Regions from separate parts of the Homo sapiens genome. Here all the other regions are linked to region 2. Evidence: fine-mapped expression QTL. A gene starts in region 2. Each other region holds a variant in brackets. All regions are shown on one strand. Distances are from middle to middle. Region 1 overlaps NOL10 (nucleolar protein 10). Region 2 holds the start of NOL10 (nucleolar protein 10). Region 3 has its middle 110 kb from the start of ODC1-DT.

Region 1 (10,240 bases), 40 kb after region 2:
AGGACTTGGCCGTGTTCTTCATCGGACACAAACCATCTTGTCTGTGCTCTAACACTGCTCTTTTTCGCCGTGGGCACTTAGTCCATCCTAGTGTCAGACTTTGCATAATGAGTTACAAATGCAAGAGCTGGCAGAAATTTTCAACATCACTTCTTGAAATCATCACACTGTAATTGCTACAGTAAATTTTATTTTGGCATTTTTTTTGTTTCTTATGACTAAAGACTTCCTCTTGACTAACACCCACGTTACTTGGTTTTGCCTGACTTGCTTACCTTGTTTATCTTTCTCATCACCTTTTTCCACACCCACCTTCTTAGCATCTTTTTCTTTTACTTTCCTTCTCTTAATTTTTAAAAGATAAAACACTTTTCCCCAACAGTTAAAATAGAAATGGTTTAGCCCTAACTACATAGTAACTAACACTTAAGTATTTGTAGGATTTCATTTTGTATTTCATATCCATTGTCTCACTTGATCCTCCTCGAAACCTTGCGGTGCAGGCATGGCAGTGTTGTCCTCATTTTCCATGCTGGCCATCTCTCTCCTCTGATTGGTTTGTTTTCTTTTCTTTTTTCCTTTCCTTTCCTTTCCTTTTTCTTTTCTTCCCTTCTTTCCCTTCTTTTCTTTCCTTTCTTCCTTCCTTCCTTTCTTTTCTTCCTTTCTTTCTTTTTTTTTTTGGGCAGAATCTCACTCTGTCGCCCCAGGCTGGAGTGCAGTGGTGCTATCTTGGCTGACTATAACCTCCGCCTCCTGGGTTCAAGCAGTTTTGCCTCAGCCTCCCTAGTAGCTGGGATTACAGTTGCAGGCCACGATGCCCGGCTAATTTTTGTGTTTTTAGTAGAGTCGGAGTTTCACCATGTTGGTCAGGCTGGTCTTAAACTCCTGACCTCAAGTCATCTCCACGCCTCAGCCTCCCAAAGTGCTGGTATTACAGGTGTGAGCCACTGCTCCCAGCTGTCTTCCGATTTCTTTCAATACAAGTTAAGCTGGGTACACTTCACAGATTATGAGAGATTTTTTTTTAAAGTTGATGCATAATTCAAACTTCATCTTTTCTTGCCATGTTGACATTATCTTTAAAATGTTGTAATTTTTCTTTTTTTTGGACAGGTCACTTCTTCTCCTTAGGCCTGTTTCTTCATCTATAAAATGGGATTTTTTGATAAATTGATAAGATAAATTCTCTAAGATTTTTAAGAATTTAAATTTTGTATTTGAAGTAGGCTATTTTATTTCTTTACATAGGAGTAGATGGTTGAGTTACAGCTTCAGTTTGACATTGCCAAAGTTGTTGTTCTTTAACTTTTAATACTTCGTTTTTGCTTGCTATTTTTAGGGAAAAATATTTACTTCCTTGGAGCCAGAGCATGACCTTAATGATGTTTGTCTCTACCCCAACTCAGGTATGCATTCTGTAGTGAACGTTCAGTGAGACAAATAAAAAGATGCATTCTGTAGTGAACGTTCAGTGAGACAAATAAAAAGGCTATACTTTTTTAGGTTTTAAACCCATTTTATTTCTTAAGATAGAATTTGGCTTTGTCAGCACAATTCTTGGATATTTAACTTACTTAGAAGAATTAAGAGCAGGAAGTGGTGTGGATGATTCAGAAAATGGCACTCTTAATGACTCAGTGCTCAGCCCGCCCAGCTATTAGTGGAACGTGGTAACAGCATACAGGTAGGAGGCAGGTGAAGTGCTATTTTAGTGTGCTCTTTAGCTCTTTTATGTGATTAGTAATAGTGTGTGGAAATTGAGGGTAGAGATTTGGAGAAAGCTAGATTGCCTGATAATACACAGATGGCTCATGAAGCCATAGGTTTTGTAAATTCTAAGTTGTATGCTATTCAGCAATTTACATGTTAGGTTTCAAAATTTAACAGTGCATTCAAGGCAAATCTGTGAAGAATTTCAGAGTATGGGAGAAAAATGAGAATAGTTTCTACTCTGAGGGCAGAGGTACCCAGATCATCTTGATAGAGAGAAGTAAGGCAGAGCGTGAGAACTCCTATCACATTTGTGCAAAGAGTACTTTGACAGCTTGCTGGAGAGAGAGAGCTTTTACCCTGTGACCACCGAGAGCGGAGCAGTGAGAAGATTTTGCTTTGCGTTGAGCTGGAGTGCCGAGTGAGATTTGGTTAGGTGGAGTTGGGGGGCTGAGGTGATTCTCATGGGAGAGCAGTCCAAGATGACCAAAAAGGATGGGCACAGAGGGCTCGGTTGGGGTGGGGAGGAGTGTCCTGTGCCTGAGCTGTGGTGGCTCTGGGAAGGCTGAAGTGGGAGGCAGAGAGTGGTGGGTGGTAGAGGGTTGGGCATGATGTGCTAAATGTCTTGGGCTCCGTGTGCTGTCAGAGAGGACTTGTTCCGACTGTGCTTTCAGAGGCAGGTCTACCCACTGTGCAAAGGGTAGATTGGTTTTGGACAAAAGTGCCTTGGAAGTAACTGATATTCTGAGCTGAGATGGGGAGCACAGGTGAGAGAGCAAGTTTGGAAAGATTATGGCTTCTTTTTCTAACGTGTGAGGATTAGGAGGTGACAGGACAGTGGCAGTATCTGGCACTATCTGGCTTCCCATCAAAATCATCTGCACAGCTTTAAAGGTACAGCTCCCTTGACCTTATACTAGGTGTACTCACTCATAGTGTCTATGGAAAGGGCTTAGAAATGTGTGGTTTTTTTTTTTTTTTTGAGTTGGAGTCTCGCTCTGTCACCCAGGCTGGAGCGCAGTGGCACAATCTCTGCTCATTGCAACCTCTTCTCCTGGGTTCAAGCGATTCTCATGCCTCAGCCTCCTGAGTAGATGGGACTACAGGCACGCACCACCACGCCTGGCTGATTTTTGTATTTTTAGTAGAAACGGGGTTCCGCCATGTTGGCCAGGCTGGTCTTAAACTCCTGACCTCAAGTGATCCGCCTGCCTCCACTTCCCAAAATGCTGAGATTACAGATGTGAGCCGCCGCGCCTGGCCAGAAACGTGTGTTTTTAACACACTTCCCGGTGGATTCTTAGGCGGCAAGCCCTGAACCGATCCGCAGACTTGTGCTTGGGGGGCGTGTCTGGCGTCCAGTAGAAAATGTGGTCTTGGGGTAAGCAGGTCTGTAGATAGAAAGTTTTGCGATTATCCCAGAAGTGGTGGGAATGAATGAGATTACTGATAGGGAAAGCTGGGAGTGAGATAAGAAGTGAGCAGGAGCTGGTTCATTTGGGAGAATGAGGGGGAGGAGCCAGCTGAGAAACCGGATGGGAATGGACAGAACGACAGTGCCAGGCCCCACGGTTTTTGAAGTATGGAAGAGATTCAGTGGGCACTGCTTAGCAACTACTAAGGATTACAGAAGTTGGGGCAGGAAGGAAAGAACTAAGATTGATTGCATGCTGCTGTTATCAATCTGGATGATGGATGCTGTAATACAAACTTATTTAATATTTTATAACTGTGTAGTCAGTGGTCCATGGCTTTTTTTTTTCTTTTTTCTTTCTTTCTGTTTTTTTCTTACCTCTTAAGGGGTCAGAAAAATTGGGTAATTCATTCAGGGTTGGTCACCCAGCTGGTGTGTGGCAGAGCCTCATTTAGAACCCAGCCTTCCTGTTTCTGGTGCCCATGCTGTTTTTTCTTTTTTCTTTTTTTTCTTTTTTTTTTTTGAGACAGAGTCTCCCTCTGTCCCCCAGGCTGGAGTGCAGTGGCGCAATCTCAGCTCACTTCAACCTCCCCCTCCCGGATTCAAGCGATTCTCCTGCCTCAGCCTCCTGAGTAGCTGGGATTACAGGTGCCCGCCACCACGCCCGGCTAATATTTGTATTTTTAGTAGAGACAGGGTTTCACCATGTTGGTCAGGCTGGTCTCGAACTCCTGACCTCGTGATCTGCCCGCCTCAGCCTCCCTAAGTGCTGGGATTACAGGCGTGAGCCACTGCGCCCAGCTGCCCATGCTGTTTCTAATTGCACACTGCTCTCCCAAGAAAGATGAGAAACCCTGGACTTTATAATTTGCATTTCATCTGTAATAGTTGAGAGAATTTTATTATAATCATGGGAGTAAAGTGAAATTCTGGTGAGTTCAGGAATAGATTGCAGCTGAGGATGCTGGGTCCTAGTTAGGGTATTGAAATGACCTACACCAGGGTCTCGGTTAAGTAGGTAAGTGAGTAAATCAGGTGGAGCTGAGGTTGGGGCAAGGGTGACGAGCAGGGATAGTGCGACTGGGGGAGTGACAGTTTGAAGGGCACAGAGAGTTGGGAGAGAAAGAGTCTTACCTTGGGCTGTACAGTTTGGTAGCCACTAGCCACTCGTGGGCATTGACATGTACTGTGAGTATAAAATATACATTGGATTTAAAAGACATTCTACGAAAAAAGGATGTAAAATAGATCATTAATAATTTTCTATTAATTACATGTTGAAATGAAAATATTTTAGACCTGTTGGATTAGTAAAATATATTAAAATTAATTTTACCATTTTTAAAAATGTGGCTACTAAAAATTTTAAAATCACATATGTGGTTCACATGCTCTTTCCATTGGACAGTGCTGGTCTAAACTGGGAGAGCTTCAACCCTTGAGGATGCTGGTAAGGTTTAGTAGTGCTTGTGCCTGGCCCAGTGTAGCGGGGATTGTTGAGCCTGGTAGGCTGCCTCAGTTTTTCCATTGTAACCAAGGATATAGAAGCCCAAAGAGACACCTGCTGAAATGAGTGCCAATCTGTTGGCCCCCGCAGGCTGTGTGCCTAAACAGCTTCTCCAGGAGGCAGGGCTGGAGGGTGGACTCTTGTGGGCAACTTGATTTCTCAGGTCAGTTTTTGTGCATCTCTTCCCCCACCTTTAATGGCTGTAAAGATCTCTTAACCCACAAAGGGTGTGACTACTTGGCAAAGAAGCCTCTTTCTGAGAAATACTCAGGCTCAGACTGTTGAGGAACCCATTCTTGAAATGCCACCACTGACGACAGTGGTTGGAATCACAAGGACAAGGAGAGGAGGGAGGCTGATGTTAGCAGTGCATGTTGTTACCCAGGTGACTGCTGAGGAAGAGACTTAAAATGGATTGAGAGGGTGCTGATAATTCAACTACGCATCTCTGGAATGCTGATTTTATTTTTTCGCCTGGTCTGTATTTATTTATTTTTTCAGAGACAGGGTTTCACATTGTCACCTAAGCTAGAGTGTAGTGGCACAATTATAGCTCACTGCAGCCTTGAACCCCTGGGCTCGAGCGATCCTGCCTAGGCCTCCTGAGTAGCTGAGGCTACAGATACGCACCATCACGCCGGCTCTCCCCTGGCCTCACGATAAAAATTTAAATGATTTGTCATTTAAAATGGCATAAAAATTGTAAAAATAAGCATGCTTTTAAATGAAATTTAAAAGTGTTTCTCTCTGGGAAAAACGCCCAAAACACTTATTTAATGAAGATTGTTGTGGCCTAGTGCAGTGGCTCACGCCTGTAATCCCATCATGCCTATAATCCTGAGGCAGGAGGATCACTTGAGGCCAGGAGTTCAAGACCAGCCTTGTCAACACAGCAAGACTCTGTCTCTACTAAAAATAAAAAAAATTAGCAGGAAGCAGTGGCACTGTGCGCCTGTAGTCCCAGATACTCTAAGGGCTGAAGCAGGAGGATCGCTTGAGCCCAGGAGTTTGAGTTTATAGTGAGCTGTGATCTTGAAACTAACTGTACTCTTGCCTGGGTGACAAAGCAAGACCTAAAAAAAAAAATTATCTTGCTAACATTTTAATTGTAGAAGCATTTATAGCACAGTGATTTTAATAGTTACTTATTAAAGTAATATTTATGAAGAAATGTTTGACAATTTGGTCAGAAAACATTCTTAATGAGTAGCATTTTAAAAAGTCTATTTGGCAAACTGACCTATAGGCCAAATCCAGTCCACCACTTGGTAATTTGCAGCCTTTGAGTTAAGAATGGGTTTTACATTTTTAAATGGTTGGAAAAAAAAATCTAAGAAGAGTAATATTTTATG[A/G]CATGGAAATTCAAATTTTTGTGACTGAAATTCAGATTTCAGTGTCTTTCAGCATAAAGTTTTATGTGAACACAGCCACCCTTGTTCGTTTATACATTGTCCATGTGGCTTTTGCAGCACTGTGGCAGAGGTGAGTAGTTTTAACAGTGACCAGGGGGGCTGCAGAGCCTGAAGTGTGTACTGCCTGGCCCTTTACAGAGACAGTTTGCTGACCCCTGGTCCATATTACTAATATAAACAAAAATGGTCACTTTATCCACAGTATTTAATTATGAAGAATTTCAGGCCAGGCGCAGTGTCTCATGCCTGTAGTCCTAGTACTTTGGGAGGCCGAGGCATGCAGATCACTTGAGGTCAGGAGTTCGAGACTAGCCTGGCCAACATGGTGAAACCCTGTCTCTACCAAAAATACAAACTTAGCTGAGCGTGGTGGCAGGTGCCTGTAATCCCAGCTACTCAGGAGGCTGAGGCGGGAGAATTGCTTGAAACCAGGAGGCGGAGGTTGCAGTGAGCCGAGATCATGCCACTGCTCTCCAGCCTGGGCGACAGAGCAAGACTCTGTCTCAAAAAAAAAAAAAAAAAAAAAAAAAAATTCAAACATACAGAAAAGTTGAAAAACTGGTAGAATGAACATCTTTATATTCTCTCCTCAATGTTTGTTATTGTTGTCTTCACCATAATTGATTTATTTATCTCTGTGCTTCTGTGGTTGTTGTGGTTTCTTTGTGGAATCACTCGAAAGCCAGCTGCAGACATGGTGGCACTCACCTGCACCCAGGGTGGCATTGATCTCCTGAAAATCATTGAAATTATTAGGTCCCTTATTGTGCCTAATAAAAATGGCAGCCCTTTTCTAATATTATCTTACATCCAGTCCATTTTCAGGTTTTCCTAATTGTTCCCCATATGCCCTTTTTTAGTTAGGTGTGGTTTTTTTGTTTGTTTTTTGTGTTTTTTTGAACCAGGATATAACTGAGGTTGTGTGTTACATTTCGCTGTTGTGTATCTTTAGTTTCTTTCAATCCAGTATAGTCCCCCACATCTTTTTCTTTTCTTCTCCATGACGTTGACTTTTCAAAGATCAGGCCAGTGGTCTCAGAATATCCTTCATCCTCGATTTATGTGATTTTTTTTTCTCGTGATGTTGTTTAACTTGATCCTCTACCGTGTATTTTTTCTAAAATAGAAGTTAAGTCTAAAGACTTAATTAAGTTTAGATTAAATTTGGGGCAAGAGTAATGTGCAGGCTGCTGAGGTCTCCAGGTCGTTGCAGTATTGGAGAGGGGTAAGGTTGATCCCATTGTTAAGTGATGTCGTCATTACAAAGTACAGTTTCTTGCAAACCAGCAACTTTAAGCATGATGTTTTGGACAAAGGAATGACTGTTACTATCTAATAACTCGTAAGAGGTTAATCAAGAGTAGAAAAGCTAGCCAAATAATTTATTTCATAAGAGAGCAGGCAGAACAAGACCCGTAGGCGCCCCTTCTTTGTGGCTTGGATCTGAGTGTGGCGGATGATTGCACTCCGCTTTTCCTTGCTTTCCCACACCTTTTCCTCCCGTTCAACTCTTTGTGTCTGGTGCTTAATCATTGTGGGCTTAATCATAGTTTAGAAAAGCTGAAACTGTCTTTCTTTTTTCTTTTCACTTACTCATTTTGGAGTAATTGAAGCATAATCATGATTATGGTTTTGTAATATTTTTCTTATACCAAGGCTGCTCAGTATATTGGGAAATGGTTCTGCCTTCCTGCCTTGTTCAGGGCCCTGCTCCTATGGCTCATCAGCCACCTGTACAGTGAGCAGCTGCTCCATGCCGGTCAGGGCACTTGAAGAGACAGCACGGCTCTATGACTTGGGTGTGCATCAGATTCATGACACGGGGAGCTTGTAAAGCTTACGTGTGTCTTGAGTCCCACTCCAGACCTGTGGAATCAGCATCGGTGGTTTCAGAACCATGGTAGAGAGAAAAGAACAGGGGCACTGGGCTCAAGAAAGATCCAATTCAGGCTTAATAGTGGTAGAAATTACCCAACCTCGGAATTCTCACCTGCCTTACAGGGCTGTTGAAGACTACCTGTACTGATAAGTGTGAAATAGCCTTTTATTCCGTCAGTGCCTTCTAAATACATGGAAAACTGTTAGAGCCATCTATAAATATCTTTGGTGCCTTGTATAGTAAACTCAAATGCCCCATACTTTCATCTGAGGTTCTAAATAGGGCAGGAGCGCCCCTGCCAGTCCCCTTTGGCACAGTTCTGCGTGCACAGCCTGTCTCCTCTGAGCTGTTCAAGGTGGTGACTGATGCCATATGTTTTTGCGCAGCACTTCCCAACACGTGTGGTGAAGGACCAGGATTTTGGTTTTTTGTTTTGTTTCGAATTTTCTAATCCACTGCACGTTGATACGTCTGTAAAAGACAATACAAATGAATTACTAGGAAAATGATCACACATTTGGTTGTCACTGCAGTGTTGAATTGCAGGTTTCTAAATGCTTCTTTTCAATTTCTGCACTTATTTCCTGGCCTGGTAACAGTTTGCAGTCTGTCACTGGGGACACACTTTGAGCAGCTGTAGAGCACTGTGTTTGTGTTGTGAACTTCAGTGAGTCCTTTAGTCCCCAGAGCACATGCAGATGAGTACTGATTTGTGCATGTTTCTGGGGAGGGCACTATTTTGTCAAATTCTCTTTTATTGTATTATTACAGCGTACTATACACTATAGTGTACTGGGTCATATTGGAAATGTGTTCTTTTGACTCCAGGTGCTGATATCTTTTCCTTCCTTTAAAAATGTATAGTTTTATTGTGGATAAACTACATTAAAATAAATTTAAAGGAAAAAAGTCCTCAATGCCATAATCTCTTTACACGTACTGTCACGTACTATTACTGTCTTCATGGGTGAAACCATATTAATTCTGTGTTCATATGTTTTAAGTTGTCCTCACACTGTACTTACGGTTATCTTTTGCTTTTCAGTTTGATGTTATATTAAACACATCTTTCACGTTGCCATGTGGTATTCATACTGACTTTTTTAAAATGGTTTCTTACTTGATCATGCAGGAGGTCTTTTAATTTTACCTTAGTTGATGAAGTGTCAGAGTCCCATGTTATGAGCCTTGGAATTGGTAGACTGTCAGTGGCTCTACTTACTAGCTATGTGGTGGCCCTGAGCAAGGGAGGTAACTTGCTGAGAATGTGACTTGCCTGGCGCGATGCTCATGCTCTTCTCTTCTCCTGCCTTGATCATCTTAATTTCTGCTGAACTAAGGCTTTCTTTCACAGGTTTATTTTTCTGTTTCTGCCTGTTAGAAGCTGCTCATACTCTTTGGGCTCTATGATGTTCTTTTTCTCATTCATAATTGCTTTCAGCCCTGACCCTCCTCACTTGAGTTTGGTAGTAGACCTGCTTGTATCATTAGCCGTATGTGGTTGTGTGAGATCCTCCTCCATTTTTAGAAAACAGTCTAGCTGTGTCCAGTCTGAATTTTTTTGTGTAATTACATTAGAGCCCTTTCCGTGGTTTGTTTGGTAGGTGGTGTTGTATTTCATTGTGGAATGTTCATTGTTGAGTGTTCAGGGTTGAGCCAGTGGAGAAGGCTTAGGAGAGGTCTTTATTAGGAACCTTCCTTTTGGTTGTGAAGATGTGGCTTCTGTCTCCAGAACTGCTTTAATTATGTCCAAAGGCTCCTGGAGATCTTTCAGCAGTGTTGTTAGTGGAGACCTAGGAAGCACAATCAGCAGAGGCAGTTTCTGTCCATCATGACCTCGGTGAACGTTGTTTGGAAGGCCAGAAAAAGTGCTAAGATGAAAGATTCTACAAGAGTTACAAGCTATGAAAAACAGCTCTGACTTTGTTTTGGTTTAATTTAGACATTATTCTTGCTTTTTTAGACTTCATTAGGTGCTTTTAGATGTTTTTACGGGGTGTGTGTGTGTGTGTGTGTGTGTATGTGTGTGTGTGTGTTTTGTGTGCATATATTTTTGGTGACCTGTTGGTCCCAGTTCAGGGCTAGCTCACACTTCTGAGTTATTGGCAAGACGTGGTTTTGGTAAGATAGTATCGAGGCCAGATGCGGTGGCTCATGCCTGTAATCCCAGCATGTTGGGAGGCCGAGGCGGGCGGATCATGAGGTCAGGAGATTGAGACTGTCCTGGCTAACATGGTGAAACCCCCCTCCACTAAAAATACAAAAAATTAGCCAGGCGTGGTGGGCGCCTGTAGTCCCAGCTACTCGGGAGGCTGAGG
Region 2 (10,240 bases):
ATCTCTACTAAAACTACAAAAATAAGCTGGGCATGGTAGTGGCTGCCTGTAATCCCGGCTACTCAGGAGGCTGAGACAGAGAATTGCTTGAACCAGGGAGGTGGAGGTTGCAGTGAGCCGAGATCTCACCACTGCACTCCAGCCTGGGCGACAGAGGGAGACTCCATCTCAAAAAAAAAAAAAAAAAAAAAAAATTGTAAGCCCTAGTTTAAGAAACAAAACAGTGAGATGATACACAATGAGAACTTTGATCTCTAGGGCCTCTTGCAGGGGAAGAAAGATTCAGGAGAGTTACCCAGGTGTCTCAGTCCATTCTCTGTTGTTTACTACAGAATACCTGAAACTGGGTAATTTATAAAGGAAAAGAGTTTATTTGTTACAGCTGTAGAGGCTGTGAAGCCCAGGGTCGAGGCGCCATATCTGAAGAGGGCCTTCTTGCTGATGGGGACTCTGCAGTCCCGATGCGGTGCAGGGCATCACATGGTGAAGGAGCTGAGTGTCCCGGCTCAGGTCTCTCTTCCTTTTCTTATAAAGCCACCAGTTCCCCTCCCATGATAACCTATGAATCCATTAACCCATTTATCCATGAATGCAGAGTCCTCATGATCCAATCACTTCTTCTAGGCCCCAGCTCTCAATACAGCCTCATTGGAGATTAAATTTCACTGTGAGATTTGGAGGGACATTCAAACCACAGCACTGTGCAGAGGAGGGTGTTAAAAGTAGCCAGAGGAGCAGGAGCAAAGGCAAGAAGAGGGTGAGAGAGGCCTTGTATTTTTCAGGCTGTCAGTAATCCAGGATTTTTGGAGAGGGTAGTGAATGCAGGAGAGAGGCAGCAGCTTCGGCACTGGCTGGAAAAGGAAGGAGGGGCCAGGTGCCTATAAGGCCAGAACCTGCAAAGGTGTTCGAATGTAGTATTTTCTTTTTCCTAGAGAGGGTCTCACTCTGGTACCCAGGCTGGAGTGCAGTGGTACGATTATGGCTCACTGCAGCCTTGACCTCCCTAGGCTCAGGTGATCCTCCTGCCTCAGCCTCCCAAGTATCTGGGACTACAGGCATGTGCCACCACACCTGGCTAATTTTTTGTATTTTTTGTAGAGACAAGGTTTCACCATGTTGCCCAGGCAGGTCACAAACTCCTAAGGTCAAGTGATCACCCACCTCAGCCTCCCAAAGTGCTGGGATTACAGGCATGAGCCACTGTACTCGACCTTCAGGTGTGTTCTTTTTGGCTTTAGGAGGATTGAAGAGTTTTTGTAGGAGTGCACCATAATCAGATTTGCCTGTTAGAGAGAATGAGTTTGTCTCTTATGGGAGGCAGACTTGAGGCTGGGAGAACAGGAAAAGGGACTACAGTGGGCCAGGTAGGAGACAATGAGGTCTGAACTCCTGCGGCAGCAGGAACAGAGAAGGAATCTGATATTGGAAAGAAGGAACCAAATGCTTCGGAGACCTACTGGCCATGGAGGTAAAGAATTAGGAGAGGAGCCAGGCGCGGTGGCTCACACCTGTAATCCCAGCACTTCGGAAGGCTGAGGTGGGAGGATCACCTGAGGTCAGGAGTTCGAGACCCGCCTGGCCAACATGGTGAAACCCCGTCTCTACTAAAAATACAAAAATTAGCCTAAAAAATTAGCCAGGCATGGTGGCATGCGCCTGTGATCCCAGCTACTCAGGAGGCTGAGGCAGGAAAATCGCTTGAACCCGGGAGGCAGAGGTTGCAGTGAGCTGAGATCCCGCCACTGCACTCCAGCCTGGGCAACAGAGTGAGACACTGTCTCAGAAAAAAAAAAAAATTTAGGAGAGCAAGCTTGAATGTTATTTGAAGGTTTCTGGAATGGCAACTAACAGCAGAACATTTAAGGTTAGTTGGAATCTGTAACAACTAGTTTTTCTGGAATAGTTTTTAATGTTTTGGTTTTCTAATAACTAGCACTTATGTAGTGTTCTGTGTAAGGCACTGTTCTAAGTGCTTTATATGCACTTTATTTTATTGACTCTAAAAGACCATTACCTATAAGATGCACCATTCCCTCAAGATATGCACGATACACTAGACTCATCCTTTCAGAGATGCTAAAAAAAAATGAATGTCCTGAAATCAGTGATTTATGGCGTAAACTCACTTTTCTGTTTTTTTGTTTTTTGAGACAGAGTCTCGCTCTTTTGCCAGGCTGGAGTACAGTGGCGCAAACTTGGCTCACTGCAACCTCCACCTCCTGGCTCACTGCAACCTCCACCTCCTGGGTTCAAGCGATTCTCCTGCCTCAGCCACCTCAGTAACTGGGACTACAGGTGTGTGCCACCATGCCCAGCTAATTTTTGTATTTTTAGTAGAGATGGGGTTTCACCATGTTGGCCAGGATGGTCTCGATCTCTTGACCTCATGATCTGTCCTCCTCGGCTTCCCAATGTGCTGGAATTATAGGCATGAGCCACCATGCCCAGCCTTTTTTTTTTTTTTGAGACGGAGTTTCACTCTTGTTGCCCAGGCTGGAGTGCAATGGCACAATCTTGGCTCACTGCAACCTCCGCCTCCCGGGTTTAAGCGATTCCTGTGCCTCAGCCTCCAGATTAGCTGGAACTACAGGTGCCAACCACCACACCTGGCTAATTTTTGTATTTTTAGTACAAACAGGGTTTTGCTGTGTTGGCCAGGCTGGTCTAGAACTCCTGGCCTCAAGTGATCTGCCCGCCTCAGCCTCCCAAAGTGCTGGGATTAGAGGTATGAGCTACTGCGCCTGGTCATGATTAGTTTTTTTTTGTTTGTTTGTTTTTGTTTTTGAGACGGAGTCTCGGTCTATTGCCCAGGCTGGAGTGCAGTGGCGCCATCTCTGCTCACCACAACCTCTGCCTCCCGGGTTCAAGCAATTCTCCTGCCTCAGCCTCCTGAGTAGCTGGGACTACAGGTGCGTGCCACCATGCCCGGCTAATTTTTGCATTTTTAGTAGAGACAGGGGTTTCACTATGTTCACCAGGCTGGTCTTGAACTCCCGACCTCGTGATCTGCCTGCCTTGGCCTCCCAAAGTGCTGGGATTACAGGCGTGAGCCACCGTGCTCAGCCCATGATTAGGTCTTAAGGGCAGAGCTCTCATGAATGGGATTGGTGCCCTTACAAAATACAGGTTGAGTATCCCTAATCTGAAAATCCAAAATCTAAAATGCTCCAAAATCTGAAACTTTCTGAATGTCAATGTGATGCTCAAAAGGAAATGCTCACTGGAGCATTTCGGACTTGAAATGTTTGGATTAGGGATGCTTAACTGGTAGACCCATCTCTATAAAAACAAAACAGCCAGCTCTGGTGGTGTGCCTGTACTCCCAGCTACTCAGGAGGATAAGGTGGAAGGACAGCTTGAGCTCGAGTTTGAGGCTGCAGTGGGTCATGATCATGCCACTGTATTCCAACCTGGACAACAAAGTGAGATGCCCCCATGGAAAAAACCCACAACGCCAACAGAAAGTAGATTAGTGGTTGTCTAGGGCTTGGGTGGGGGATGGGGCATGGAGTGAATGCTAATTGAGGCTGGGGTTTCTTTTTGTTCTAAAAATGATTGTGGTGATGGTTGCAGAACTCTGAATACACTAGAAGTCATTACATTGTACATTCAATGGGGACATTTTACAGTATGTTAATTATATCTCAATAAAACTGTTAAAAAGGAAATGTTAATGGAATTTGGATACATTTCCACTTATTTGGTATATGGCTTTATTTTCAGTTTTATTTTACAAACACTTACATGGTCTTACTATGTGCCAAGTACTGGGTTCCAAACGTTTTATAAATATGAATGTATTTCATCCTCATAACTCTGTGAAGTGGATACTACTGTTATCTCCATTTTACACAGGTACAGAGAGGTTAGGTAACTTACCTAAGGTCTTTCAGTTAAAAATGGCAGTCGGGATTTGAATCTTGCCAGTCTGGCTTCAGAGTCTGTGATCTTTATTTATTTTTCAAGAGATAGGGTCTTGCTGTGTTGCCCAAGCTGGAGTACAGTGTTAGTCACAGGCATGATCCCATTACTGGTGAGCATGGGAGTTTTGACTTGCTCCATTTCTGACCTGAGCCGCTTCACACCTCCTTAGGTAACATGGTGGTCCCTGGCTCTTGTGGGGTCACCATATTGATGCCAAACTGAGGACACCCAACGCTCGTTGCGTGCTACAGCCAAGAACTCCTGGGCTCAAGTGATTCTCCTGCTTCGGCTTCACTAGTAGCTAGGACAATAGGCCTGCACCACCAAGCCAAGCCAGAGTCTGTGATCTAACCATTCTATTATGCCACCTTTCCCAAAGATGTTTACAGTTTTTCTTAACTGTAACCAGTGTAGAAAATTAAAAATTTGTGGAGGATCTTAAATTTGAGGACAGAGTTAAGGAATATATCCCTACGTACATGGCTAAATGTAAATATGTAGCAATGCCTAATAGAGGCCAGGCACTGTTCTGGTACTCTGGGTAGGGGTGGATGGGGTGGATAGGGAATATAAGGACAAATGATATAGGGTCCACGAAGAACTCTCAACCTAATTCTGATGCAATGTGGTGTTGGTATTTGAGAGTTTCCAAAATGTTGTGGGTAGGAGAGCAAAACAATAATATTTGGGTTTTAGAAAGTAAGGCATAAAATAATTTGTTCATTAAATCAAAGGAAGTAAGAAGATCACTTGGGAAAGTTATAATCCAAAAATAGTTAAGTATTTGAGTTTCAGCAGGAGGAATGAAAACAGATTACTTTAAGGAAATATTTCATAATTAGAAATATCCAGGTTTAGATACTGAAAGTGAGGGCCAGAGATAGGAATGGGTTGAAGATGACGCCACAGTCTTCTTTTTTTTTTTTTTTTTTTTTTGAGACGGAGTCTCACTCTGTTGCCCAGGCTGGACTGCAGTGGCACGATCTCAGCTGACGGCAACCTCTGCCTCCCGGGTTCAGGCGATTCCCCCACCTCAGCCTTCAGAGTAGCTGAGATTACAGGCGCGCGCCACCAGGCCCGACTGATTTTTGTATTTTTAGTAGAGACGGGGTTTCACCATCTTGGCTAGGCTGGTCTTGAACTCCTGACCTCAGGTGATCCGCCCGCCTCGGCCTCCCAAAGTGTTAGGATTACAGGCGTGAGCCACCGCACCCGGCCTACAGTACTTCTAACGTAACATCGCAGAAACACTGGAGGAGAGAAGAGAATACACTTCCACTCGGAATTCGCACCCTGGTCGCCTTCATTCGCTGGGTTCACTCGCTGAACTGCCTCGCCCCCGCCCGGGAGGATGACATCTCGGCCTGGGCAGAGACTCGAAAGCCTCCTCCTGCCGCTCGGGATGCTAACAGCAGGGAGAGCTGTGTCTAGTTTTTTTTTTTTTTTTTTTTTTTTTGAGAGGGAATCTCGCTCTGTCCCCCAGGCTGGAGTGCAGCGGCGCGATCTCAGCTCACTGCAACCTCCGCCTCCCAGGTTCAAGCAATTCTCCTGCCTCAACCTCCCGTGTAGCTGGGACTACAGATGCCGGCCACCACGCAAGGCTAATTTTTTTGTATTTTTAGTAGAGACGGGGTTTCACCATATTGGTCAGGCTGGTCTCGAACTCCCGACCTCAGGTGATCCGCCCGCCTCAGCCTCCCAAAGTGCTGGGATTACAGGCGTGAGCCACCGCGCCCGGCTTGTGTCTAGTCTTGCCCGTAGCAGCGTCGCCGACAGCCACGCCGGGTTGTCAGAGCCTCACTAGTTTTTCTCCCGGCCGCCGCTCTTCCCGGATTCAGCCACCTTCCCTCTTCCGGGAACTTGCCCGCGTGTTCCGGCTCCAGGAAGTGCGTCATCAGTCGGCGCCAGCGGCCGCACGCCGCGGAGCAGGGGCTCGGAGGTCCCGGGATTACGGTGCTCGAGCACGCTGGTGGGAAAGGACCCGGGACTTGAACAGTGTTGTGCGGCGCCATGCAGGTCTCCAGCCTCAATGAGGTGAAGATTTACAGCCTCAGCTGCGGCAAGTCCCTTCCTGAGGTGAGTCACTTCCCGGCCCCCTCACTCTCGAGCTCTTGGGGGTCGTCCTCCTCGTGGGGCAGCCGCCCCTCTCCTCGGCCCTAGCCTCTGTTTTAGCTGGACGCTGGTCACCCCCCGACTCGGGGAGGCCCAGAGGCGGCTGACAATTTCCGGGGGAGGTGTCGGCATTGGGAGACAAGGACACTGCCGTCACCGCGCCAGAAACTGGACCAAGGGATAATCAGGGTCAGTGAGCTTTGCTGGAACTTTTGTAAAGTTCTCTGTTCCAGAGAACGCAACCATTTGGGCCTCTTTGGGTGTTCACAGTCCCTGCCGTACATCGAGGAGGAAAACGTGGCAGATTCGTTGACACATCTCTCCCCCATATGGCCATCAGCTGTTTGTGGAGTCCCTATCATTTGCCAGGTCTTAGGGATACAACAGTGAACAAGGGAGATACAGACTTCGCATCTGCAGAATTTATGGTGTAGAGGACAGTATTTTCGAGACTTGTTGAACTTAACCTGATTCCTAGTCTTAAAGTTGGAGAGGGCTTGGACAAGTCGGTAATTCTCTTCCAATCTTCTCGTGTTTAGTAATGCAGCTGAGATTTAATAATGCGTTTAATATGCAGCTGAGATCCAGCAAGGGGAAGGGTGACTTGTCCAGCATGACACACTTAGGCTCTGAAACTTGTCTTTTGTTTCTTATACGTGATGATCCAGCCTCTGTCCAAGCACTACCACTGAGCACTACCTTTTGTGGAAGCTCATTTCCATTTTGAGACTCTGCACTTGTTAGAAAGTGGTTTTCAAATATGTCACCTTATAGCATGCCACTGTTGGCCTGAGTCCTGCCCTTGGAAAACAGAATAAATATAGCTCTCCTTCCATGCGTCTGCTTCTACAAAAATTTGGAGCCAGTGCTTAGGTTTTTCCTTTCTTCCTAAAATTCTGGTTTGAATAATTCCCTGTCTTCCAGTTGTTCTTCACACCCCATGAGCTTTCTCATTTTGTTCATTCATTCTCCACATGTATTGAGAAGTTACTGTGTGCAAGCAACTCTGTTTTAAGTATTGGGATCTATAGTGGACATTTCAGATAAGGTTCCCTGTTGGGGAAAAGGGAAATAAACAAGTGAGCAAATAAGGCAATTTAAGGTAGTCAAAAAGTACTTTTCGTGGTGAATGATTAGAAGAGAGCTGTTTTGGATAAAATATTGAGAGAAAGTGTTTTGGATAAAACCTTCGGGGAAGGCCTCTCTACAAGAGGTGACATATGAGCAGAAACTTGGATGATGAAGAGGAGCCAGTCGTGTGAAGATGTGGGGAAGAGTTTTCAGTGCTGAGAACAGAAAGTGCAAAAGCCCCACATGGGAATGCACTGGACATGTAGGAGGACGGAAGAGGCACAGGTGTGATTGCACTATGCTGAGTGAGGGGGCGAGAGCAGGGTGGATGAGGCTGGAGAGGTAGGCCTGGTAGGAAAGGTAGGAAGTTCAAGTTTTATTCTTAGTGCTGCTGGAAGTCACTGTTGTGTGGGCTGCTGTGCGACAAATGTCTAGCTGGGGAGGGTTCAAGTCGGGATGAATTAGGTAGTCCAGGTGAGCGACTTCGGTGGCTTGGGCTTGCCTGGTAACAAAGAAGATGCTAAAACACAGTGAGATTCAGGACATACTTTGTAGATAGGGTAATGGAACTTGCTAATGGATTGGACTGTTGGTAGAGGGAAGTTGAGGTGACAAAAAGGAAGGAATCAGAGAACTCTTCAGTTTTGAGTCTGAACAAGTGGGTGCACGGTGGTGCTGCTAACTGACATGGAGAAGAATCAAGAAGGAACACATTGAAAGGTGGAGAGGAGGAACGTAGTGAGCAAAAAGAATCAAGATTTTTTTTTGAGGTCGCGTGCAATGGCCTGATGTTGGCTCACTGCAACCTCTCGGGTTCAAGCGATTCTCCTGCCTCAGCCTCCCCAGTAGCTGGGACTACAGGCACGTGCCACCACACCAGCTAATTTTTGTATTTTTAGTAGAGACGGAGTTTCACTATGTTGGCCGGTATGGTCTCGATCTGATCTTGTGATCCACCCACCTCGGCCTCCCAAAGTGCTGGGATTACAGGCATGAGCCACTGCACCCGGCCCAAGGTTTTTATTTTCAATAGTGAACATTTGAAGTTCTAATACATACCAAATGGAGATGTTGAGTAGTTAGCAGTTGCATGGATACTAGGATGGAGATTGCAGGTGAATTTACTGTCGTTATTTGGGACTAGGTGAGATCAAATTGTGAGAGAAAGAACAGAGAAGATAACTAGGCTGAGGACCTGAGGCAGTCTTAGCATTTGTCATCCAAGAAGAGGAGGGGAACCCAGCAAAGAAGAAAGAGTAGTGGGCACTGATGGAAGGGGAGACTGGGAAATGTGTAGTTTTGTAGAAGTAAGTGTTTCAAGGAGGAGGTGGTGGTCACCTGTGTCAGCTGCTACTGAGAGCTTCAGTAAGATGAAGGCAGAAAAATGACCATCGACTTTGGCATGATGCAGAGCGCCCTTGACCTTGGCAAGGAGCTCCAGTGGAGTGGTGGGGAGGGTAGCTTGAGCTGAGTGGATTTGGAAACCCCTGCTTGTCCTGTTTAATATTTTCTGGTTATTTCTTTGAGGTGTGGTGCCTAAACTACACGTGGAACCCCAGTTGTTGTCTGATCTGTGCAAATATTGCTTCTCTCCTTCTGGGCTTTACCTTTTTATTAATGTAGAGAAGCCTCTACGTTTACTCCCCTGGTGATCCTAGGCAGTCTCCTGGCTTTAAGCACATCTGCATATCGATAACTATCACATTGATGTTTCTAGCCCTTACCTCTACTCTGAACTGGACTTGTGTATCCAACTGTTTCTTGACATCCCCGCTTGGATGTCTGATAGGCATCTCAAACTTAACTTGTCCAAAGTAGAACACCAGCTTTCCCCCCACATTTCCCCCTCCTGCAACCTAGTGGTCTTCCCTCCCTCAGCCAGTGGCAACTCCATCCCGCAAGCTGTTGATGCCAAAAACACTGGAGGCTTTTTGTTGTTGTTTCTTTGCTCTCATACAATCCACTAGAAAATGCTGTTGCTTCTATCTTCAGTATAGATCCAGAATCCAGTCACCTCCATTACTGTCACTGATTCAAGACACTGTCACCCCTGACTATGCAATTGCAGTTATTGCAGTTGACTTCTAAGCAGTTTCTCAGTTTCCACCCTCTACCCCTTTATTCCACAGTCTGTTATCAGTAAGCTGCCAGGGTGATCCTCTACTCAGAACTGTCCAGTGGCTCCTGCTCTCTTGGGGGTGAAAAGCAGAGTCCTTTGAGTGACTTTTAAGGTCCTACTTGATGTTGTGCCTTCCTGCCCTCCTCTCTGAGCTCAGCGGTCACTGTTCTCCACCTTACACTGGCCTCACAAGTCTCACTGCTCGAGACCAGGCACACTCCTGCCGTAGGACCTTGGCACAGGTCCTGCCTGCCTGCTTTTTTCCCAGATGTTCTCCAGGCTTTGCCTCCTCATGCCTTTCAGGTCGTTGCTCAAGAGGACCTTAACCTTATTCAAAATTATAATTCTCCACCAACACTTCGTCTCCTTTTCTTGCTTTATTTTTTCCATGGCATACATAACCATCTGACATTCTAATTGTTTTACTTCCTTATTTGTTGGTGTTCCCTCACTTGAAAGAAAGCTTCATGAAAGGAGGGGTTTTTAGATTTTTAAATTTTTTTTTTTTTTGAAACAGGTTTACTCTGTTGCCCAGGCTGGAGTGCAGTGGCACAATCATGGCTCACCTCAGCCTTGACTTCTCTGGGCTCAATGATTCTTGCACCTCAGCCTACTGAGTAGCTGGGACTACAGGTGTGTACCAACATGCCCAGCTGCTTTTTTTTTTTTGTAGAGACAGTGATCCCACTTTATTGCCAGGCTGGTCTCGAACTCCTGGGCTCAAGTGATCCCCTTGCCTCAGTGCTGGGATTATAGATATGAACCACTGCACTTGGCCAAGAGGGCTTTTTTTTCCCTCCTGTTTTATTTACTACTGCTATACCTAATTACTGGCATTTAGTAGTACTAAATAAATATTTGTTTAATGTATTGATGAATAAAGTTAATTTTCATTTTCAGCTCCATCACACTTTTGACTTGGGGCTACGATTTTTATTCACACAATTTGACCTACAGTCTCCCATTCTGGAGTTAATCAGCTTTTGTTGTATTTTTAATGCCGTTAAATTTATT
Region 3 (10,240 bases), 130 kb after region 2:
AGGTAACCTTCTCCCGCCCCGCCATACACCTTGCACAGAGCTTACCCTTGACTCAGACCCTCCATGCTGGGGGAATTACCTCCCTGTGACCATCCTAGGAAGACACCTCTTGGCTCTTGCAGAGTCAGAAAAGCACAGGACATGGAGTTGAGAAACCCGGTTTCTTCTTTTTCTTCTTTTTCTTTTTTTTGAGATGGAGTCTCGCTCTGTTGCCCAGGCTGGAGTACAGTGGCACAATCTCGGCTCACTGCAACCTCCACCTCCCGGGTTCAAGTGATTCTCCTGTCTCAGCCTCCTGAGTAGCTGGGATTACAGGCACACGCTGCCATGACCAGCTAATTTTTTGTATTTTAGTAGAGATGGGGTTTCACTGTTGTTGCCCAGGCTGGTCTCGAACTCCTGAGCTCAGGCAGTCTACCCACCTTGGCCTCCCAAAGTGCTAGGATTACAAGTGTGAGCCACCGCACCTGGCCTGCTTTTTCTTTTCCCTGTTATGGCCTCTCTGGGTTTCCAAAATTCTATCTCTTTTTTCTCTTTTTTTTTTTTTTTTTTTTTTTTTTTTGATGGAGTCTCACTCTGTCACCAGGTTGGAGTGCAGTGGCACAATCTTGGCTCACTGCAACCTCTGCTTCCCAGGTTCAAGTAATTCTCCTGCCTCAGCCTCCCGAGTAGTTGGGCCTACAGGCATGCATCACCACGCCCAGCTAATGTTTTCGTATATTTAGTAGAGACAGGGTTTCACCATGTTGGCCAAGATGGTTTCAATCTCCTGACCTCGTGATCCACCCGCCTCAGCCTCCCAAAGTGCTAGGATTACAGGCGTGGGCCACCTCGCCTGGCAAAATTTTTTTTTTTTTTTTTTTTTTTTTTTGAGACAGTGTCTCACTCTGTCGCCCAGGCTGGGGTGCAGTGACGCGATCTTGGCTCACTGCAACCTCCGCCTCCCGGGTTCAAGTGATTCTTGTGCTTCAGCCTCCCTCAATGTTTTTTTTACTTTGTCCCACAGTAAGAAATCCATTTGACATCATGGTGCAGAATACACGTACATCAAAGGTATTAGAAAATTGTTATCTTGCATCATACAAAGGACGCTGTTATTTTTCTATCCAGTCCTGCTCTAGTTCCTTTACACCTCCCCCCAAAAAAGTTCACACCCATTACTATGGTTCCACCACCCACTAATGAGGGCTCCAACCCCGAGTTGAGAATCACTGCCTACTACCCTAATCAACTGATGGCATTCTTGCAGGAGTATGTTGACAAAGCCCATACTGAAATGTGTCCCCCAAATGTGTAATTCTTCCTATTGTAATGTGATAAATTGTGTAATGAAACGTTTTGCTGGAGTTTTATGAGAATTTTTTTTGACTGAAGACACGAGATGAGTTTTTAATTATTTTTTTCAAAGCTCTATTTTCAGCATAAATTAAGTACAAAATATATTTTATGGAATAGTTATAGGGTTTTTTAGGAAAATTTAAAAGATTTTGTGGTTCTTTCTAAGGAAAACTTTCAATGTGTTAAAAACCTATCCAGGGCCTGGTGCAGTGGCTCACGCCTGTAATCCCAGCACTTTGGGAGGCTGAGACAGGCAGATCGCTTGAGGCCAGGAGTTCAAGACTAGCCTGGTCAACATGGTGAAACCCCATCTCTACTAAAAATACAAAAAAATTAGCCAGATGTGGTGGCAGGTGCCTATAGTTCCAGCTACTCAGGAGACTGAGGCAGGAGAATCACCTGAACCTGGGAGGCAGAGGTTGCAGTGAGCCAAGATCGCGCCACTGCACTCCAGCCTGGGCAACAGAGCAAAACTCCATCTCAAAAAAATAAAAAATAAAAACCTGTCCAGGTTTTTTGTTTGATAAATTTTGTTTTTGAAATGATTTTCAAACCTAACTTTACCCATGTAGCCATGAAGTTAAAACAAAATCCTAGAGTTTATGCTGTCATTGTAAGCAATTACAGATGATGGCCATTACAAAACTTCATTTTACTCTTTGTGGAAGACTAGTCTCCATTTCATATGCAATAGAAGATTCAACTCTCTTTTGCACTTGAGAATACTAAAAGTAAATGTATTTTAGTAAAGAAAAAAAACCCACATGTAAATGAATGTGTGTCTTGGAGCAACTGAATTCTATTCAAAACTTTGGAAGGAAACAGCAAAGTGTTAGAATACGTGATTTTTAAAGTGTATGTATAAATAAATACCGTGAGTAAATATTTGCTTATTTCTTTGACATCCCTAAAAAGTTTATATATACAAGTTGGCATAATTTTTTTTCTTCCCCTTGGGAAATAGTGTAATTGCCTTTATTTGGAGTTTCCTTATATTAACCATTTATAATTATAGTAGCTTGATTTAGGACATTACACATCTCTTTGAACGTGGGGAAATTTTCAGTCCTGAAAATTTTTATCTTACAATTTTTTTTTATTAACGTGTACATTTTCCAAAATTAATGCAATAACAAATCTGACAGTTAATATTTGAAAGAACTATTTTGGCCAGCATGCTGCCTCCTACTCAAAACATCTGTTGTTCCCCATGAGCACATACTGGGTGAATGGAAACTTCTAAGAAAATGTCAGTCCTTACCCTTGGAGATAGGACGGCCTGAGGCAGGAGTGTCAGGAGGGACACAGGTCACCATGCTGGTGCGGGCTCCGGGTGTGCAGCTCCCTGCAGGGGGTGGAACCCTCCCCACTCCCTGGGCATCCTGCCCAATGGGAGTCCCAGATGCACATCTTAATGCACGAGGAAGTTATTATTCTCTCACTGTTGTCAGTTGCAGACCCTGTTTGTGACTATTCTGTAAACCCAGATGGAACTTCAAAGCGGTAGGGTGGAGGGAGGCCAACTATATTTTTCTGGTAGCCTTAGGTTTCTTTCCAATGTAGGACAAAATCACGAATCTCAGCCTCTCAGGATTTGAGGGATCTTCTAGTTGAACTGGCTGAGACGCCTACCTGATTGGATTTCCCGAGTTGCCTTCTCTCCCATTTCAGATGATCTCATTGTGAGTTGAGATTTGGAGAATCAAAACCTCCCTCCCCGCCCTTTCCCTAGCTTCCTCCTGCCCTTGCTAGGTCTGCCTTCCAGGGTTCTGCAGAACTGCTCTGATTTCTCCTGGCGCTCCCTTCTCTGTCCCCATTTCCCTCTGCACATCACCCCTTTCCTTGCTGGGACCCACCTCCAGTCCCCTCCACTCACCACTCAAGCTCGTGGGAGAGGAAGCTCATCTCCTGATCTCCAGCCTTGCTAGCCTCCCTGGGAGCTTCGACACGGCCTCCATTTCCCTCTTGTCCTCGGCCTCCTTGGTCTCTGCCGACTCCTCATCCTCACCCACGCAGGTGTTAACATGCTCCAGGATGTCTTCTTTAAGCCTGTCACTCTTCCTTCCATAGTGTCACCTCTCTTCAGTGTCCCAGAGCTGCCTCCCAGATAGCCTCTGGGCCTTTCATCTGGGTGGCCGCTGGCACCTTGAGTTCCACATGCTCAAAGCAAAACTCATCCACCCCATCCCACCCACCCGAACACTTGCTGCTACTCCTCATTCGCCCGTCTATCAACCTGAGCCAGAAGTCACAGTTCCTGCAAGCACTACTTATCGAGCACTCTGCAGTTGACTCAGCAAAAAGAGCCGTTTACTTGAGTTTATGTTTCACGGGGGAGACAGACGATGCATCCAGTAGACACAATGCAGGCCACACGAGCCACTGGGCAGGCAGGAGAGCTGGGAGGGCAGGGCTGAGAATGCAAGAAATCGGCTGGCTCAGAAGAGGCCTCTCCGAGAAGGTGAGAAGTGAGCAAAGCCTGGAAGGAGGGGAGGCAGTTGGCCAGGGTATCCGGGAGGAACATTCTAGGCAGAGATCTCCAGGGTGCATCAGAAGCCCCTGGAGGGCATGTAAGGTGGAGTTTCTAATTCAGTGGGTCTGAGGTGGGGGCAGAAAACCTGCATTTCCAACATCACAGATGCTGCTGCTGCAGCTGGCCTGGGGCCCCACCTGAGAACCACTGGCTGGTGCAAAGGCCCGAGGCAGGGCTTTGCCCGGATGCTCAAGGAAGACGCCATTGGCCCCTGGGGCTGGCAGGGAGTAAAAGATTCCCCTGTAATCCGGCGGGTGTGGCTTGGTGTCAGCTGTACCAGAGTGAGTTGTGGGGCACTTGGGTCCTTGCATTGCTGTCCCAGCCCATGGAGCTCTCCGTGGGGATCTTTTCATCCCGGGAACCTCAGCCACAACTTCCTCCTTGCCCTTTGCTCGCCTCTGCAGCCTCCTGGCCCAGCAGCCTTCCCTGCACGCAAATGGCAGCAGCATCTGGGCTCCCCAGGCCAAGCTGTGGGAAACTCTAAGCCTTTCATGATGATGGGCTTTCAAAGTCCAGGACGGTCTGATGAGTGAAGACAACAGAAGGAAACAAGACCTGGGTCTGGTCCGGACTTGCTCATGGCGAAGATTTCAGTTAGTGGCCAAGTCACTTAACCCGTCCGTGCCTTGGTGTCTACATCTGTAAAATGGGTTTAATAGTATCTGTCCCCTAAGACTTCAGAGGATGTTAGTGGAGCCTAGTGAGTGAAGTCCATTAAATTCAGAAGAAAGGCGTAACTAAATACAAAGCACTACTAGAATTAGCTCTCAGGGTCTTTAAGCCAGGTTGCATCTTGTTTTAAGAGGGTTACCATGGC[G/A]ATGAGTTTGTTTGAAAAGCATATGTTTAAAAGGCTTGGCTATTATCTTGCAACAATAAGTAAATTTCATTTTGCTGGTTCCCATTGTAACAGAGGCGCAGCGCCTCACCAGCAGCCATGACAGCCAACACTGCTGCGACTGCCACCTTCTGCCATGGCAAAGAGCACGGTTACTCCTGCTGTACATACAGTGAGTGCTTACTGTACGTTGTAGAGGCCACTGTGGTGGCATCTTGTCATGCGGATAGAGGACTGTCCTGTGGGCAGGACCCACCAGAATAATGCTCCTGCCATACCCACATCTATGGTTATGCTGGGTCTGCACTGGGCCAGAGATGTTGGCGGGATGGGCGGGGAGGGGTGAGGCTGAGCATCCTGCAGGAACGACTCTGTACCAGGCACCATCAGATTCTTTACACGTCACATCTCATCAAATGCCCCCGGCAGCCTGGCACTGTCCCGGGCAGCAGGATGGGGGTGTGGGTGCATAAGAGGTAGGACGGTCCCTCCCTCCATGAGAACAAAATTCAGCCTAGAAACGCAGACAGCGTGGCAATGCTGGGGCGGTGGTGGGGGTCCTAAAACTCAGGCACAGGGGCCAGCCCAGAATCTGGGGTCCTGGGGCTGGGCAGGGGCTTGGGTCAGTCCCTGGGTGCAATCCCAGCCCCACCGCGCAGCAGCTGCATGACAGTGGACAAGTCACTCACCCTCCTTGCCCTGGTTTCCACAAACAGGAGCACACACAGCGCTGTCAGTGGGACGTGGGGCACGCCATGTTCAGAGGCTCCATGTGAGTCTCTGGCAGGCAGCAGCAACTGAATGAATGGGGCAATGGGGACTGTGGCCCTGGATGAGGACACAAAGCTCCTCAGGTGCTGCTCTAGCTCCATGGTCCTGATTGGACAGGAAAGACCCTGTCACTCCGCCGTTGCTTCTTCTCAGGGCTGGACCCACCACAGGCACCTCACACACCTCCTGGAGTGCAGGAAGCAGGACCCCTTGTCTGTGTGGGGCCACATGAGCAGAATCTTGCTCAGGTCTGAGAGCCCCACCTCTGCTAAGAGGGGCTTTGAGGGGGTCACATATCCCCATGTTCCTGCTCACGATTGGGCTGTGGTGTCCCTGCTGTGCCACAGGCCCAGTCGCAGCCAAGGCAGGACCAGGGGCTGGAGGGTCTCGGAAGCTGCCGCTCAGCCCCTGCCTCAGTTTCCTCACACTGTGAAGGTGGAGTCAGGTGAGCCTCCCGTTGCCTGGTTTTCCTGGGGAGGGTGGGGTCTTCCTGTCCAGCTTGGACGTGGAGTGGAGCACCCCTCTTTCCCACAGTCCCGCCAAACTGGACTCATTTTCCTTCAAAGCCTAAGTCTTGTGAAGACACTTGTGCCCTGGAGGGCCTGGCGGCCACGAGGTGGACACTCCATGGCAAGGCCTCGTCATCAAGGCACCTGCCGCCCAGCACAGCGCTGTGCACAGCAGGTGCTTACTAAATACAGGCTTAATGAATAAGTGAATGAATGGAGAAGGGCATGAGAGAGGGGAAGAAACTCATCTGTATTAGCTCAAAACAGCCCGAATTCTGGCCTCCAGTCGGCATGGGACCAAGGAGAGCTGCGCATGTGGTGATCTGAGCCTCAGCCAGGGTGGGCCCAAGGGTAGGGGTGAGGCGAGGTGCACCCATTTTCCTGGGAGCTGAGCTGGAGGCTGATCCCGGCTCAGGGCCTCCTGCTTCCTTCCCTGTGTGGGGAAACGAGAGGCATTTCCTGGAAATGCAGCCTGGGTGCAGCGGAGGACAGAGCCAGGTAGGGTGGGAGGAGGCTGTGGGCCAGGGCTCTGGGACAGGTGAGAAGACACTGGCGCTCTGCCCAGAGACCCTGTCCCCCAGCAGAGTGGCTACGAGTTTCCTTCCCATCAGAAGTCAGGCCCTGCAGGTCCATGGACCAAGACAAGCCACCTCCAACCAGAAAGAACTCTGGAGAGACGTGCCTGTGTCCACGCCCATGGTTGCTCAGGGACCAGTCAGGCAACCTCCTGCCTCACTTTCCCCCTACAAAACAGGGAGATCAGCATGGCCCGTTGTGTGCCCCCAGGAGAGGCACCTGTTATACAGAGCAGGGCGGCAAACAATGGCCCATGGGCCGAACCCAGTCGCCGCCTGGTGGTGCTTCCTTTTCAGCCACCCACCTTGTAGTGCCTGGCAAGGGCAGCCTAAGGGAACCCACACCCTCTCTGACACCTCTGTTGTGTGGATCTCACAGCTCTCCCTGCTGTCATAGCTTATCATTTATTTATTTTTATTATTTTTTTGCGACTGAGTCTCACTCTGTCGCCCACGCTGGAGTGTGGTGGCATAATCTCGGCTCACTGCAGCCTCCGCCTCCCGGGTTCAAGCGATCCTCCTGCCTCAGCCTACTGAGTAGCTGGGACTACAGGCGTGTGCCAGTACACCTGGCTAATTTTTGTATTTTTTGTAGAGGCAGGGTTTCACCATGTTGGCCAGGCTGGTCCCGCACTCCTGACCTCAGGTAATCTGCACGCCTCAGCTTCCCAAAGTGCTGAGATTACAGATGTGAGCCATCGCGCCCAGACAGAAGTTATCATTTATTTATTTTTGCTCATCTTCCTCTACTAGAATGGAAACTCCACTGAGAGCAAGGATCCCATTTATTCTTTATTTCCGTATCCCCGGTGTCTTTGAAAGTGCCTGGTACGTACTGGCACAACGTTTCTGAAATGAATGAGTAGATATGGCTCTACTGGTGTCCTGTGACCCGCGTAACCAAGTGCCAAGAGCTGGGTGGCTCGCAACAACAGAACCCGCTCTCACCGTCCTGGAGGCCAGGTGTCTGACATCGAGGTGTCAGCAGGGCCCTGCTCCCTCCAAAGGCTCCTGGGGAGGCTCCTTCCCGGCCTCCTCCAGCGTCTGGGGGTTGCTGGCAATCTTTGGCACTCCTTGGCACTCCTTGGCTTGTGGACGCTTCACTCCAATCTCCGTCTCCGTTTCTGCCCAGAACTCCCTTGTGAGTCCGTGTCTTTGCTTTCTCAGGAGAATTGCTCATTCCAGCCGCAGTTCTTCCAGGGGGCGGTCTGTGCGCGTGAACTGCCTGAGCGGGGAACCCAGCCAGATCATGAACTGCCCAGGCCCCAGCTCCCGGCTTGATTTGCTGCAGTTTTCCTAATTGGAAGAGAAACGTATGCTGATTATTTTTAAAGACATAAATGTTACAGAAATGTAACAAAAGCAAGTGAAATTCCCCCCAGCCCCATCTCTCCCTGCTCAATGGCGTGATCGCACACATTTGGGGCTGGTGCCTCAACTCAGGCCTCTCATCACCCATGGAGGCCTGGGATGGGCAGAGCGTGACGTCAGGCACCATGGGGGGACTCGCGGGGGCGAGCTTTACCTTTGCTCTTAAGGAGCTCCCAGTCTAAAGAGGGAGACAAAAAAAAAAAAAAAGCCCAAGGAACTGTCCTAGCCAGAGGGGCCTAAAGAGGCCATGACTAAATGGCCTGTGGCTTTCTGCAGGGGATCCTGGAACAGAAAAGGACTTAAGGTGAAAACTGAGGAGATCTGAGCCAACAGTGGACCTGAAGAATGACTGTCAGTCCATTCATCGGAACAAATGGGCCGGACTCATGCCCCATGTTAATAATGGAGGAACCTGGATGTGGGGTTTATGGGAACTCCCTGTACTATCTTCTCAATTTTTCTGTAAATCCAAAACTGTTGGAAAAATTAAAATCCATTAAAAAAAAAAAGACACAATATAAGGCACCAAGGCAAATGGTCTGCTGAGACAGAAGAAACCAAGCCTCGGAGCTCCCCACCGGCTTACGCTGAGGGACCCCCGGAGGGAGGCCAGCTGGCCCTTGCAGCCACACAGGGTGAAGGAAATGAGTTGGGTGTTTCGGGAGAGAGCAACCAGATGTCCCATCTGGCTGTGGCCCGCATCCCTCCCCGCCAGGGCCCCGCTCGGTAAGCGGTATCTGCAGCCTTGGGAATGCCCCAAGGGGAAGGGGACAAGAGGAAAGGGAGTGAGACCATGGGATGGACCCGCGGGCCTTCCTGCTCTAGTTCCCAGCCTCTGCCTGCCCCACGGGAGGCTCCCTAAGTTCCCCGAGAGTGCAGGAATGCACAATGAGCAAATGCTGGTTGCTAGGCCTGCGTGCGCACAGGCAGACTCTCCGTTGTGTCTTTCGGTGCCTGCAAGAGCCTTGCGGGTCTGCAGCTCATAAACCCTCTTCACTCACCATCTATTTTGCTATTTTTTAATTGCCTGAGGTCAAATCCAGAAAGCAGCTTCTGAGATTCCTGCGGCTTCCTGCCCGCCTGGTGTCCTACGCTACCATTTTCCTGTGCAAACACTTGAGGGGCGTTGGGAGCCGAGGGAATTGGAGCAGCAGGTCCTGTTCCTTCCCCTGGCTGTGTGTTTAGGAAGGTCTTTGGAAACACAACTGTTTGGAAAAGTCTTGAAATAGGAAATAGAGTCCCAGCTGAGTGTCTAGGTTACATGAGAGTCAAAAAATATAAAACCATTTCCTCCAAGGTTGCCAAGTTTGGAGGGCCCACCCCGCTCTGCACATCCTGCAAATGACTCAACTTGAATTTACCTCCGTGACTCTTGCGCGACTTCCACGCGTGAAGCCAGCACCCAAAGGAGCACTGGGTGCCCCTGGCGTCCTGGACACCAGCCTCCCCTCCATCACAACACTGGGACCCTATCCCAGGCTGGGCCTGGCCCACTGCTCAACAAGCATCACACTGTCACCTGGGGCATCTGCAGAACTTTTCATCAGACAAGGAGAAATGGCCTGTCCCTTGCATGGGGAGAATTCCTCTGCTATTTTAACCATTTTCTTTTCTTTTTTTTTTTTTTAAGACGGAGTTTCGCTTTTGTTGCCCAGGCTGGAGTGCAATGGCGTGATCTCAGCTCACCATAACCTCCGCCTCCCAGGTTCAAGCAATTCTCCTGCCTCAGCCTCCTGAGTAGCTGCGATTACAGGCATGCACCACCACGCCAGGCTAATTTTGTATTTTTAATAGAGATGGGGTTTCTTCATGTTGGTCAGGCTGGTCTTGAACTCCCGACCTCAGGTGATTCACCCGCCTCGGCCTCCCAAAGTGCTGGGATTACAGGCGTGAGCCACCGCACCCGGCCTTATTTTAACCATTTTCAAACATGCAGCTCAGTGGCAGGAATCCATTCATTGTTGTGCAGCCATCACCAACATCCACCCCCAGAACTTGTTCATTATCCCCTGCTGAAACTTTGCACCCACAAAACACTCTCTATTTCCTCCTCCTCCCAGCCCCTGGTAACCGCCACTGGACTTTTCTCTCTATGAATTTGCCTCTTCCGGGTGCCTCATATCAGTGGAGTCATGTCCCTTTGTGTCTGGTTTTTTCACTTAGCGTAGTGTTGTCGAGGAGTCATGTCCCTTTGTGTCTGGTTTTTTCACTTAATGTAGTGTTGTCGAGGAGTCTGTCCCTTTGTGTCTGGTTTTTTCACTTAGCGTAGTGTTGTCGAGGAGTCTGTCCCTTTGTGTCTGGTTTTTTC

What was found. PIP is the estimated chance that this variant, and not a neighbour inherited with it, causes the effect.
Region 1: its variant is fine-mapped to the expression of NOL10 in whole blood (INTERVAL, PIP above 0.99).
Region 3: its variant is fine-mapped to the expression of NOL10 in whole blood (TOPMed, PIP 0.94).

What each region holds. Positions count from the first base shown.
Region 1 is chr2:10,645,647-10,655,886 of GRCh38, reverse strand. NOL10 (nucleolar protein 10) reads left to right here. Exons shown (of 21, transcript NM_024894.4): 12 at 1,340-1,406. Among named protein-coding and RNA genes, the nearest start is that of NOL10, 39 kb to the left of the region's middle. RefSeq lists an enhancer at 732-1,931. The variant A/G (reference allele first, on the strand shown) is at 5,984.
Region 2 is chr2:10,685,556-10,695,795 of GRCh38, reverse strand. It overlaps NOL10 (nucleolar protein 10), which reads left to right and starts at 5,821. Exons shown (of 21, transcript NM_024894.4): 1 at 5,821-6,000. The coding sequence starts at 5,935. It also overlaps the pseudogene RN7SL832P. RefSeq lists enhancers at 5,975-6,254, 6,315-6,374.
Region 3 is chr2:10,554,273-10,564,512 of GRCh38, reverse strand. No RefSeq gene overlaps it. Among named protein-coding and RNA genes, the nearest start is that of ODC1-DT, 110 kb to the right of the region's middle. The variant G/A (reference allele first, on the strand shown) is at 4,689.